4 linked regions of the Homo sapiens genome follow. The protein of the gene in region 4 purifies or fractionates together with the protein of the main gene of each other region. This does not show direct contact. Each region holds a gene or a part of one and is shown on either strand. Other genes may lie near its edges.

What was found. Proteins that work in one complex are often made in the same cells at the same time.
Region 1: the proteins of EPB41L5 (region 4) and H2BC17 purify together in Homo sapiens (affinity purification with mass spectrometry; 2 studies listed by BioGRID and IntAct, with this or other methods). This does not show direct contact.
Region 2: the proteins of EPB41L5 (region 4) and CWC22 purify together in Homo sapiens (co-immunoprecipitation; 3 studies listed by BioGRID and IntAct, with this or other methods). This does not show direct contact.
Region 3: the proteins of EPB41L5 (region 4) and BLTP3A purify together in Homo sapiens (co-immunoprecipitation; 3 studies listed by BioGRID and IntAct, with this or other methods). This does not show direct contact.

The regions. Positions count from the first base shown.
Region 1 is NC_000006.12:27,892,184-27,894,391, reverse strand, and holds H2BC17 (histone H2B type 1-O), read right to left. Parts: upstream 968-2,208; 5' UTR 930-967; coding exon 549-929; 3' UTR 501-548; downstream 1-500. Other genes in the region: H2AC17 (histone H2A type 1), read left to right, coding at 1,243-1,635. UniProt on the Homo sapiens protein: Core component of nucleosome. Nucleosomes wrap and compact DNA into chromatin, limiting DNA accessibility to the cellular machineries which require DNA as a template.
Region 2 is NC_000002.12:179,969,298-179,972,797, reverse strand, and holds part of CWC22 (pre-mRNA-splicing factor CWC22 homolog), read left to right. Parts: intron 1-1,721; coding exon 1,722-1,857; intron 1,858-1,941; coding exon 1,942-2,148; intron 2,149-2,234; coding exon 2,235-2,297; intron 2,298-3,500. UniProt on the Homo sapiens protein: Required for pre-mRNA splicing as component of the spliceosome. As a component of the minor spliceosome, involved in the splicing of U12-type introns in pre-mRNAs. Promotes exon-junction complex (EJC) assembly.
Region 3 is NC_000006.12:34,875,049-34,878,014, reverse strand, and holds the end of BLTP3A (bridge-like lipid transfer protein family member 3A), read right to left. Parts: 3' UTR 501-2,966; downstream 1-500. UniProt on the Homo sapiens protein: Tube-forming lipid transport protein which probably mediates the transfer of lipids between membranes at organelle contact sites. May be involved in the retrograde traffic of vesicle clusters in the endocytic pathway to the Golgi complex.
Region 4 is NC_000002.12:120,019,577-120,023,076, reverse strand, and holds part of EPB41L5 (band 4.1-like protein 5), read right to left. Parts: intron 1-3,500. UniProt on the Homo sapiens protein: Plays a role in the formation and organization of tight junctions during the establishment of polarity in epithelial cells.

The sequences.
Region 1 (2,208 bases), on a different chromosome or scaffold from region 4:
AGATGGGTGGATCACGAAGTCAGGAGTTCGAGACTAGCCTGGTCAAGACGGTAAAACTCCGTCTCTACTAAAAATGCAATAATTAGTCGGGCACGGTGGCGGGCGCCTGTAATCCCAGCTACTTAGGAGGCCGAAGCAGAATTGGTTGAACCCGGGAGACGGAGCTTACAGTGAGCCGAGATCGCGGCACTGCACTCTATCCTGGGCGACAGAGCCAAGACTCCATTTAAAAAAAAAAAAAAAAAACAACACAAAAGGAAAGAGTAACCGAAAACCGAAAGCAAACTTGTAATTATAGCTTAAAGCACAACTGCAAGCCTTTTTCCCCAAGGGTATCTAAGAACCCAAGCTAAATTTGTCTGATGGAGCGTCTATACTCACACGCAAAAAGCCTAGGGAGCTTAGCTTACCTTTTCCCGCCGTCTTCCCTCCTAATGGAGGCCGGCCGGAGTCCACCCAAAAGACTACAAGCAAAATGCACAGGCTCTTTCTCTGGAAGCGTGAGTGGCTCTGAAAAGAGCCTTTGGATTGCTGGCAGCTGCGAGAGCTCACTTGGAGCTGGTGTACTTGGTGACGGCCTTTGTGCCCTCGGACACGGCGTGCTTGGCCAGCTCCCCGGGCAGCAGCAGGCGCACGGCCGTCTGGATCTCCCTGGAGGTGATGGTCGAGCGCTTGTTGTAATGCGCCAGGCGGGAAGCCTCGCCAGCGATGCGCTCAAAGATGTCATTGACGAAGGAGTTCATGATGCCCATGGCCTTCGATGAGATGCCGGTGTCGGGGTGGACTTGCTTCAGCACCTTGTACACGTAGATAGAGTAACTCTCTTTGCGGCTGCGCTTGCGCTTCTTGCCGTCCTTTTTCTGGGCCTTGGTTACGGCTTTCTTGGAGCCCTTTTTGGGGGCAGGAGCAGATTTAGCCGGGTCGGGCATGGCGGAGGAGAGTGAAAGAGCACTCAAATAACAAGAATGAGGACAAGCTGGGTTATGCCCTATTTATTTACAAGTCTATATGCAGATGAGATTGAGAAATTCTTCTGTCTGATTGGAAGTTACTCAGATGACGTTAATATCAATATAGTCCAATCAAAACACGTATATTCAGAAAGCTCATTTGCATTAAGAGGAAGCTGCAAGCTTAGCCAATGGCCCAGCTTCTTTTTCGCGCCCAGCAGCTGCTATAAAATGCGCGTCCCTGTAGGTTCCTTTCACTCACTTTCTGACTTAGGCCACAGGTCGTTTTACCATGTCTGGACGTGGCAAGCAGGGCGGCAAGGCTCGCGCCAAGGCCAAAACCCGCTCCTCTAGAGCTGGGCTCCAATTTCCTGTAGGACGAGTGCACCGCCTGCTCCGCAAGGGCAACTACGCTGAGCGGGTCGGGGCCGGCGCGCCGGTTTACCTGGCGGCGGTGCTGGAGTACCTAACTGCCGAGATCCTGGAGCTGGCGGGCAACGCAGCCCGCGACAACAAAAAGACCCGCATCATCCCGCGCCACTTGCAGCTGGCCATCCGCAACGACGAGGAGCTCAACAAGCTGCTTGGTAAAGTTACCATCGCTCAGGGCGGTGTTCTGCCTAACATCCAGGCCGTACTGCTCCCCAAGAAGACTGAGAGCCACCACAAAGCTAAGGGCAAGTAAGGGCTGAACTTTAAAAATGTAAACTTACAAGACAAAAGGCTCTTTTCAGAGCCACCCACCATTTCTACGGAAGAACTGAGCACTCTGTTCTCCAAACCTATCAGAAATTTGTGGCCGAGTTCAAGCACTGAGGCCATTACTTTCCTATTGGGTAAAATAAAAGTATTGAATCAGGCCTAGTAAATACTATCCAACTGCTACCTTATAACATGAAGGAACCTCCTTAATTGTCCCCTCCCCACAAACTGTCCTGGGTCTTTAAAAAACTTGGGGCCGGGCGCGGTGGTTTATGCGTCCTTAGCATTTTGGGAAACTGAGGCAGGTGGGTGGGGAGGGGAGAAATCTCTAGGGACCTGGAGTTCGAGACCACCCTGATAACGAGACCCCTGCCTCTTAAAAAAAAAATGACTGGGCGCGGTGGCTCACGCCTGTAATCCCAGCACTTTGGGAGGCCGAGGAGGGTGTATCACAAGGTCAAGAGATCGAGACCACCCAGGCAAACATGGTGAAACCCTGTCCCTACTAAAAACACAAAAATTAGCCGGGCGTGGTGGCGAGCGCTACTAAGGAGAC
Region 2 (3,500 bases), about 60 Mb from region 4:
CTGAACTCGTGATCCACCAGCCTCGGCCTCCCAAAGTGTTGAGATTACAGGTGTGAGCCACCACGCCTGGCCATATTTAATATTCTTTAATATAACACTTTGATGCTGATCAAAACACTTTAGATATTTATCAAATTAATCTGACTTAATACTGTACATGGTTACTTGACTGCAAACCATTCCTTTGAAGAACCATTCCCTTCATTTTTATAAAACAATAAAGTTGGTATCTCCTCCACTTCATTCCCTGCTGTTCATGAGAATCTAATAAATATCTGATATTCTACAAAAACCTCTATTCCTTGCAACCACACAGGTATAGTCATATATTTTTAGAATCACTTGATAGAATAGAGTTGATCGATTTTAATCTGTTTCAAATGCAGGTAATTTTATCATGCTGTTATTCAGTTTGTGTTTATTTTATATTCATTATTTGATGGTTTTGATTTAGCTTTTATTTAACCATGAAAATGCTAAAATTGTCCTTGCTCATACTCAAAAGTTTCCTTCAGATATATATTATCATTTCCAATTTAATATCATGTATAACAGGAAGAATTTTAAAGTCATGCTTAGTCTTATTTCACTAATATTAAATATTTTGATTCTTATTTACATGAAAATTCTTTCACTCTTACAAATCTTTTAGATTTTGACCTAATTAGTCATCATATTATTACAGTGATAACTTGCTACTTAAGACCATGGAAACTTAATTTCACATCTGTAACCAGAGATATATTTCCGTTTTTAAATGTGTATTACACTTAGACTAGAGATTTTTGGCATTGCCATGAAACACTCGATATGATAAATTTTTTGCATCTTCCAGCTGTGGTACAGGGCAGTATTTTCTTGTCACTGACCTAAGACTGTTTGACACCCCTCCTCCCCTAGTAAAAAGAAGTAGTGGGTGTCTTTGATGTTGTGCACAGCTGGAAGAAGATATCTCCTGAGTTGAGATTTAGACTTCTTTCCTCACCATCTTAAATCACTGTCTGACTTTAGAAAGGCATATGTATGGTGTTTTAAACATTCTTTGTTGTTCGTTTTCTTCTCTTAGCAAACTTCTCAATAGAATTTTATTCCCACTCTTCCTGGCATTGTTTATAAATGTCAGTTTTTGAACGTGGCCAGTAATAGTTTGATTTAATTTTTTAAAAAAAGATAGACTATTCAAAACTGTTGTGTTCCAGAAGTTGTTAAGATATTTTGTGATAAAATTAGTATTCATGTAACTTAAGGACTATTTGTGTCTAATAGAGTTGCTGATAGAATGAATTGGGAAATGTATATAAAGAATTGTGATCATGGAGAAGGGTATTATAAATCATATTACTATTTCTTATGTAGTAATTATGAAAATAATTACCTTATTAGAAAGTAGTATATGATTTTTAACATATTTTATCTATGACACTTTCCGTACATAATGGCTAAGAATATTTCTTCTGAAGATAATTCAAATAGTTGTATTCAGCATAGAAAATTAAGATTTTTGAAACAGTCATCTGAAAATTCTTAGTAGACAGATAATAAAAGTGATAGAAAAATTGTATCCCATATTTGGAGTATTTCCATGTGCTTTATAAAACTTTGCCCATCATATGTGCAATATAATTATTGTAAACAGATTTACTAATTTTTAGAAATTATAAAAATAATTTAATGTATGTAAAAGCATTTTGTTTCTTCCTTGTATATGTATTTTATTTAAGGCACACGAAGTATTATGCTTAGAGATGCTCACTTTGCTCCTGGAAAGACCAACAGATGATAGCGTTGAAGTAGCTATTGGTTTTCTTAAGGAATGTGGCCTCAAATTAACACAAGTGTCACCAAGAGGAATCAATGGTAAGTGTACATTCATAGTTTGATGTTAAGTTTTTATTATATTTATTGCTTATTTTATTGTCTTTTCTTTCTGTTAACTTTTAGCTATATTTGAACGCCTTCGAAACATTCTGCATGAGTCTGAAATTGACAAAAGAGTTCAATATATGATTGAAGTGATGTTTGCTGTACGGAAAGATGGATTCAAGGACCACCCCATTATCCTAGAAGGTCTTGATTTGGTGGAAGAAGATGATCAATTCACTCATATGCTCCCTCTGGAGGATGACTATAATCCAGAAGATGTTCTTAGTAAGTCCGGGGCATGTTAGTTGGAAAGAGGCTTACCAACAAATGTAAATATAGAAAATAAACATTAACTTTTACATTTTTTTTAGATGTTTTCAAGATGGATCCTAATTTTATGGAGAATGAAGAGAAGTACAAAGCTATTAAGAAAGGTATGTAAAATTTTATAAAATAATTTAGTTTGGATAAGTAGAAGCAATTTAAGTAGTTACGTAATACTGATAGCAAATATTTAGAGATCCCCACCTAATGAATCGCTGCTCTTATAAAGTTATTCTCTTAGCTGTTTCCTCGGGCATTATTTTTTTCCTGGTGCTTGCCCAGGGTTTTTTACTTCATTCTGAATTACTTACCCCATTGTTCTTTCCTCTTTCCCTCTAAACTATGCAACACTTACGTCTCACCCATCTTAAGAAATATTCATAGATTAGTGGTGGCCTTTATTTAGCTTCTCTACCATTTACATTCTGTGCCACCCAGTTTAGTATTCAATTAAGTGGTATACTTTATTGTAAAGTGCTATACTTTATTGTTTCTTGAGGTCAGGTTAATATCCTTCTGGTAGGATGAATCATAGTATTGGTGCCTCTCTGATAAAATAAATTGATCATTTTCATTTGTACATCATTGGTATATTGTAAGTACTAACTTTGGACAGGTTTTGATGTGTAATTTATCTTTGACATTACTAGCTGAGTGACCTGTAGCAAGTTACTTGTTTGTTGGAAGACTAAATGTTACCTTTCTATGGAAGGATATATAAAACACAGTGTTGTGTATTATCACCTACAATGATAGCTATTATTAGTTACTATTTTCACATTTGTATTATTTTCCTCCTAAAGCTAACACTCAGGCCTACTTACATAATAATTTTATGGGCTTATTTCTCTTGAGTTGTAATTTTACTGGAGAAGTATTTATTGCTGTGGAAGCAATAAAATTTACCTTTGTATTAAACCCCAAAAGTTTGTATTAAAAGCTCTCTGATTATAATAGAAATGTAAAGAGTTGGTTAGCTTTGCAAAATCTTTTATCAGGCTAACAGCACCATTGGGCAAAATGTAATTTTAGTTTTTGTCATTTGTTTGCTTTTAACATAAAGACCAGCCTTATGTAGTCTCATATACAGAGAAAGCAGAAACCTAGAACTCTGTCTCTGTCTGCATTCCATTGTTCAGTAGTGCTTAGAAGTAGAAGGTTGAAATGAAAAGTAAAATTGGGAGAAATCTTCCATTCCTCTGCATTATCCTAAAAACCTGTTATAATAATGAGTTTCTCTTCTTAGATGCTGATTTCCTAGGAGCTTTTCACTGTAATATGCCAGATTCTTTTTTTCTGTTATAATTTCATTT
Region 3 (2,966 bases), on a different chromosome or scaffold from region 4:
GCCTCCTAAAGTGCTGAGGGCTTTAATGGTTTCACATTGAAGCCTGAAGTTGCTAAGACTTAGGTTGTTTCTTATATCTGGTTTTAAGTAGATGAAACAACCAGAAACTTTTACTTGTGATACTCTACCATGAAGGATGCGGTAATGGCAGGAATAGCAGAATAATTGGTGCTTGTAAACATTTAAGATTCTCCTGTGGATTTTGGTGAGTGATCATTAAACTGTTTTCCAACTTGCCCTAGGTGTATTCATTTTCTGTCTAGCTGGTTGGAATGGGAAGTTGATCATTCTTTTTTGGTGTTCCAATACAACTGGTTTTGGCTATTTTGTGAAAATTTGAGCACTTTTTCTAGTAGAACCATTAAAATTTTATCTCATAAAAGAGTACTTCAAGCACTGTTAAAAACAGTGTAATAATTCCCCCCCCAAGACTGAGATGAAAATAAACAATATAAAAGCCCATATATTTCAGATTCTTATCAACGGATATACAACAATCATTATGGTTTAATACATTTAATTTGTTTTTTCAGGTGGTTCACAGAACCAGTACACTCAAAGTTTGACTAGATATTGCAACATTAAAATTTCCCAATACTGACAAGGATTCTAGTTCATCAGATACATTCTCATTGTTTTCCTCAAATAGAGGTGAATGAAGTGACCTTTTATTGACAGTGATTAGCAGTAATAAGGCTATTGTATGTAACTGGCATCCCCAAGAATTCTTTCCTCACTACCATTCAGTGTCATAGGGAGGATTTTGAAGCTGTTCTCTCGTGAAGCTTTCCTGAGCATGTCTTAGTAAAGATTCTAATTCTCTTTAGCACCCTCAGTGGGGGAAACAGAATTAGATACTGAAAGTATCTTACATTAAAACCCATGGCTTTAAACATGTACTTAGCCAATGGAGAAGACACTTCAGTGGGGCATTCCACAAATAAATGCTTTAAGACTCAGGCTAAATCTTGACCAAAAATTAATAAACTGACAAAAAAGATACTGTCTCAGCATTAACAGGAATTTTTTTTAGAAGTCACAGGAACTATATCTATTGCAATTAGAGATACTGAATAAGGCTTAAACTTAATAAATAACAAGTGAGGAAGATCAAATCCCAAGTCTGGCCACTTAGCAAAGCCTCATTGTTGAAGGTTATCCAAGAGTGTTTCCCCTTGTGCCATGGGGAAAATAATCCCCGTTCAATAGCTACTACCTATACCTACCCAGAGGTGCATGGGAATAATCCTATTCCGACAGAAGGTAGGGGAGCAACTAGGTAAAGGCCTTAGTGTCTGAAAGGATAGTGCTTCACACCAGATTCTCTCTGAAACCCTTAGTAATGACTATGATAAATCATGAGGCAATGACACACCTTTTACTGTTCTCAAATAACAAGATGTCATCGAACTAACTTGTGTACCAAAGTTCAGTTGTTTCCATAGTTTTATGATTTTACTATAACTCATTTTAGAATTTTAGGCAAATATTGAGAGAAAAAAAAGCCAGGGTAAAGGGTTGGAATAAAAAGTTCCCATATTACTATGGCAATATTTCAAACTACCTTCTTTGCACTACCACCCATCCCCCAACCCGTTTACCACTAAGGGGAAAGTAATCTAAGTGAGTTAAATGGAAGCATTTAAGTTACAGGGGTATGTGAGGGGTGGTGTTTATACCTTGTATATTCCACACACGGGAGCCAGTCCTTTCAGAGCCATAAAAAGCACACATAAAGGTTGAGGCCCATGGCAAAATGAGGGTCAGGTGAAATATATGGTAAAGAGCAGCCATCATGTGAATAGAACCCACCTGTTTTATATCAGGAACACCAGATTAATTATTCCAGTGAGTTGAAAACAGAATTTGGGATTGATAGCCATCCTTGCAGCCCAGTTAAAGACAGGATTTAAACTCTAGTCCATACACACTAAAGCATATCCCCAGCACATGCATGTAAACAGGAAATGCAGACAATCACAGATAATACAGTTGTAAATGCTTCACAGCTGAATTGGTAATGTGCAGTGGCTGAAGTCTTTGAGGGACAGTGGTGCTATCTCTCCAGACATTTTCTTGAGGTATTGTTATTTCTTGTTCCAAGTCTTGTAGCTCTAAGGCAGAAATCATAAGCAGTCCAAAAGGGCTGACACTGCTACTTTTTCCTTGCATATTTTCCTTTACACTTAATCCTGAGGACTACCACCACTTCGCATTTCTTCATTATGAACACGAATATGAAATTAGGCAAGCTGATTTTTACTAAAATCCCATGGGATAATATCCCCTATCACATTTCCTGAGGGAGAATTTCAAGACACAATGGCCAAAGCTGCCACATAAGGAAAGACAGAAATTCTAAGGCTCCATTTGTGACATGGACAAGAGCTCTGGACTCCTTTAGAGAGCCCAGAGACCTAACTGAGCTCCAGCCATTAGGAGGTTAGCCTTGGTACTTACTGGATATGTTTTTACTCCCACCCCACAAGCACAAGTGTAGGTAAATTATACCAAGAAATGCCTATTCGACATTTCTTTGCATGGAGGGATGCCAGAGGTATATGGTGGGTGAGGGGAGGAAGGGATGAGAAGAGAATCAGAATATGATTTTAAACCAATTCAGGTGAGCCTAACGTGGAATAATTATATTTTCCAGCTACCAGATCTCCTTCCTCCCCCTTCAAGAACATTAGAGATGCCATACTTGACCAGTGATCCATTCAGATCAACATTCTGCCTTTGAAAGAGGCACTAAGGAGTAGTTTGTTGAGGGACACAGTTACCCTCTCAGTTGTATATTACCAAGTAGCCCTACTTTTCTATAATTCCTTGTAGAAGGCCGTCATGCAAGGATTCCTCATAAACCTGCACCCATGTATAGTTTCTGGTGGCATCCCTTCTTAGACAATGAGCTCCTTACATTTCTGATTTGCTATGAGAAGTGCTTTCTTTACTAAGGCTATGAG
Region 4 (3,500 bases):
ATCCAGAATCTACAAGGAACTTAAACAAATTTACAAGAAAAAAACAAACAACCCCATCAAAAAGTGGGTGAAGGATATGAATGGACACTTCTCAAAAAAAGACATTTATGCAGTCAACAAACATATGAAAAAAAGCTCATCATCACTGGCCATTAGAGAAATGCAAATCAAAATCACAATGAGATACCATCTCATGCCAGTTAGAATGGCCATCAATAAAGTCAGGAAACAACAGGTGCTGGAGAGGATGTGGAGAAATAGGAATGCTTTTACACTGTTAGTGGGAGTGTAAATTAGTTCAACCATTGTGGAAGACAGTGTGGCAATTCCTCAAGGATCTAGAACCAGAAATATCACCTGACTCAGCAATTCCATTACTGGGTATATACCCAAAGAATTATAAATCATCTTACTGTAAAGACACATGCACATGTATGATTACTGCAGCACTATTCACAATAGCAAAGACTTGGAACCAACCCAAATGCCCATCAATGATAGACTGGATAAAGAAAATGTGGCACATATACCCCATGGAATACTATGCAGCCATAAAAAGGATGAGTTCACGTCCTTTGCAGGGACACAGATGAAGCTGGAAACCATCATTCTCAGCAAACTAACACAGGAACAGAAAACCAAACACCACATGTTCTCACTCATAAGTGGGAGCTGAACAATGAGAACACACAGACACAGGGAGGAGAACATCACACACCAGGGCCTGTCGGGGGGTGGGGGGTTAGGGGAGGGATAGTATTAGGAGAAATACCTAATGTAGATGACGGGTTGATGTGTACAGCAAACCACGATGGCACGTGTATACCTATGTAATAAACCTGCACGTTCTGCACATGTATCCCAGAACTTAAAGTACAATTTAAAAAAAGGAAAAAAAATTGTTATCTATTGGTTAATTGACCAAACATTTCCCAATTTAAAACTTATAAGGGTTTTACATTAAAGCTATTTACCAATACTAAGCTCTTAAACAAGTTTACTGTCGTATTTTCAAAGAAAAAACTTAAAAATTAGATAGAAATTTCTACCTGATACCTTTGTCATTCACTGAAAGGCCTTCTCACCCTATTTAATTTTTTTTCTTTAAAGGAAGAAGACGGCTAACTATAATCACTAGTGACCCTTATCCTAGACCCTTATCGTAATGGGAAATGAGTATGTGCTTCATTCAATTTCTAAAATCAATTCTAAATCTTCTCCCAGAATCACAGTAGACTGGTTGAGAAAATAAATCTGAAAAGGGGAAATCATTTCTTCTTTTTTAGAAATTATTATTCTTCTGGACTATTTTTTCCTTTAGTGACAATTTAGTAAAACAGGCCAATGACCACTTTATATCCATGCACGTACCTAGAGTTAGGTTAATAAGTACGATTTCACCTACAGAATTGGAAAGACAGTTGTTCCTTTTTTTTGAGATGGAGTCTCGCACTGTCACCCGGGCTGGAGTGCAGTGGTGCGAATTCAGCTCGCTGCAACCTCTGCCTCCTGGGTTCAAGCGATTCTCCTGCCTCAGCCTCCCAAGTAGCTGGGATTACAGGCGTCCGCCACCACACCCAGCTATTTTGTATTTTTAGTAGAGACGGGGTTTCACTATGTTGGCCAGACTGGTCTCAAACTCCTGACCTTGTGATCCGCCCACCTCGGCCTCCCAAAGTGCTGCGATTACCGGCGTGAGCCACTGCACCTGGCCCAATTGTTCCTTTTTCTTTTTTTTTGAGACGGAGTCTTGCTGTCACCCAGACTGGAGTGCAGTGGCGCGATCTCAGCTCACTGCAATCTCCACCTCCCAGGTTCAAGTGATTCTCCTGCCTCAGCCTCCTGAGTAGCTGGGACTACAGGCGCATGCCACCACGCCCGGTTAATTTTTGTATTTTTAGTACAGATGGGTTTCACCATGTTGGCCAGGCTGGTCTCGAACTCCTGGCCTAAGGGTTCTGTCTGCCTCAGCCTCCCAAAGTGCTGGGATTACAGGCATAAGCCACTGCACCTGGCTGACAACTGTTCTTGTTTCACAAAAAGTCCAATCTATATCTCCAGCTGTTTCACTACAATTGTCCCCATGAGAGACCAGCTAGTTTATAAATTTGATCAAGCATCACATACACCCAGCTAAGCATACAAAGTTTAGGAAACCATTCCAGATCAGTAACTAGCCATTTGTTCCACCACTTTAAAAGCTAGTGTTGTTTCTCCTCCATACTGCACTGCGTTTTTAAAAACCTCTTTTTTTTTTTTTTACAAATTCTACTCTCCTACTATCAGCTTGTCCATCAACAACCCTGAAACTTCATACTTCAAACATTAGGTAATAAGAAATTTCTTTCCAGTCTCTTACACAGCAATCTCAGGCTTTTCACCACATATCCAATGATATTTTAATGAAATAGTAAACAAAACTCTTAAGATTCCTATCAAATAAGAAATGAGTATGAAAACTATCCTCACAAAATATCTCATGTTGGAATGTCTGATAAACCCTCAAGAAGCACTTACAGGAAGAAAATTTAGATGCTTTCAAGTTGTCCAGAATCAAAAACCCTAAAAATATACATTCTTATAGACAAAGATAACAAATACACGTAATGATGACTTCAAAACACTTCAAGAAATCCTGAGTCTTTGATTAATTTTATCATATTCTAATATTTTAAAATGTATAATGTACATATCTAATACATTCCAAATTATTAAGTTAATCAGAACATCCATTTAAACAAACTCTCCAATTCCTTATACTCTCACTTGGTGAGTTTAAGGTCTTCCCGAGCTTATTCAATTATGTATTACAGCAGCACGTAGGCTATCACTTTGCCCAAAGAGACTTTTTAAATTGAATTTTGGGTAGATGAGTGTGTACTAAAAAGTCTGTGGGGAGAAAAGACATTAAGGAATATCCTATGAAGCTCACATCAAATGATGTAATTTACCGTTAAGTCTTTGAATGCAGAACAAAGACATGAGAAAGAGATTTGGTATTAGCAAGCAACTCAGAAAAATATTCAACTGCCCAAAACCAAAAAGCCAACCTTTTCTTCCCCTCCTCCACCCAAAAAGTCCTGTAAAAAAATAAGCTAACCCCTTTCAAACATGTCAGATTGTTTCACACTGAGTTATGATTATATATTTCTGAAAAAAAAAAAATCTATCCAAAATGCAAATATAATTACAACAGCCTGTCTTGAGATAAAGACTACAGTGTATGAAAAACCTACAATGCAAAATACTTCAGGAGCAAAGAGACAGGCAGTCAGAGCTGAGGGGTATGAAGAAAGTCCTTTTTCTCACTTCACCTCATTAATGTCTGCAAGTAAACCAAATTGTGGGGAAATATTTATTTAGAAGAAAGTAAGGAGAGTTTTAAAAAATACAGAAGTGCATAGAAGCTAAAAGTCTTACAGTACACATTTAAGTGTTGTTATTCTCAAAGATTCACAACGTTTTAATAATGGTTCAACAAGGATTGTCAGAAATCCACT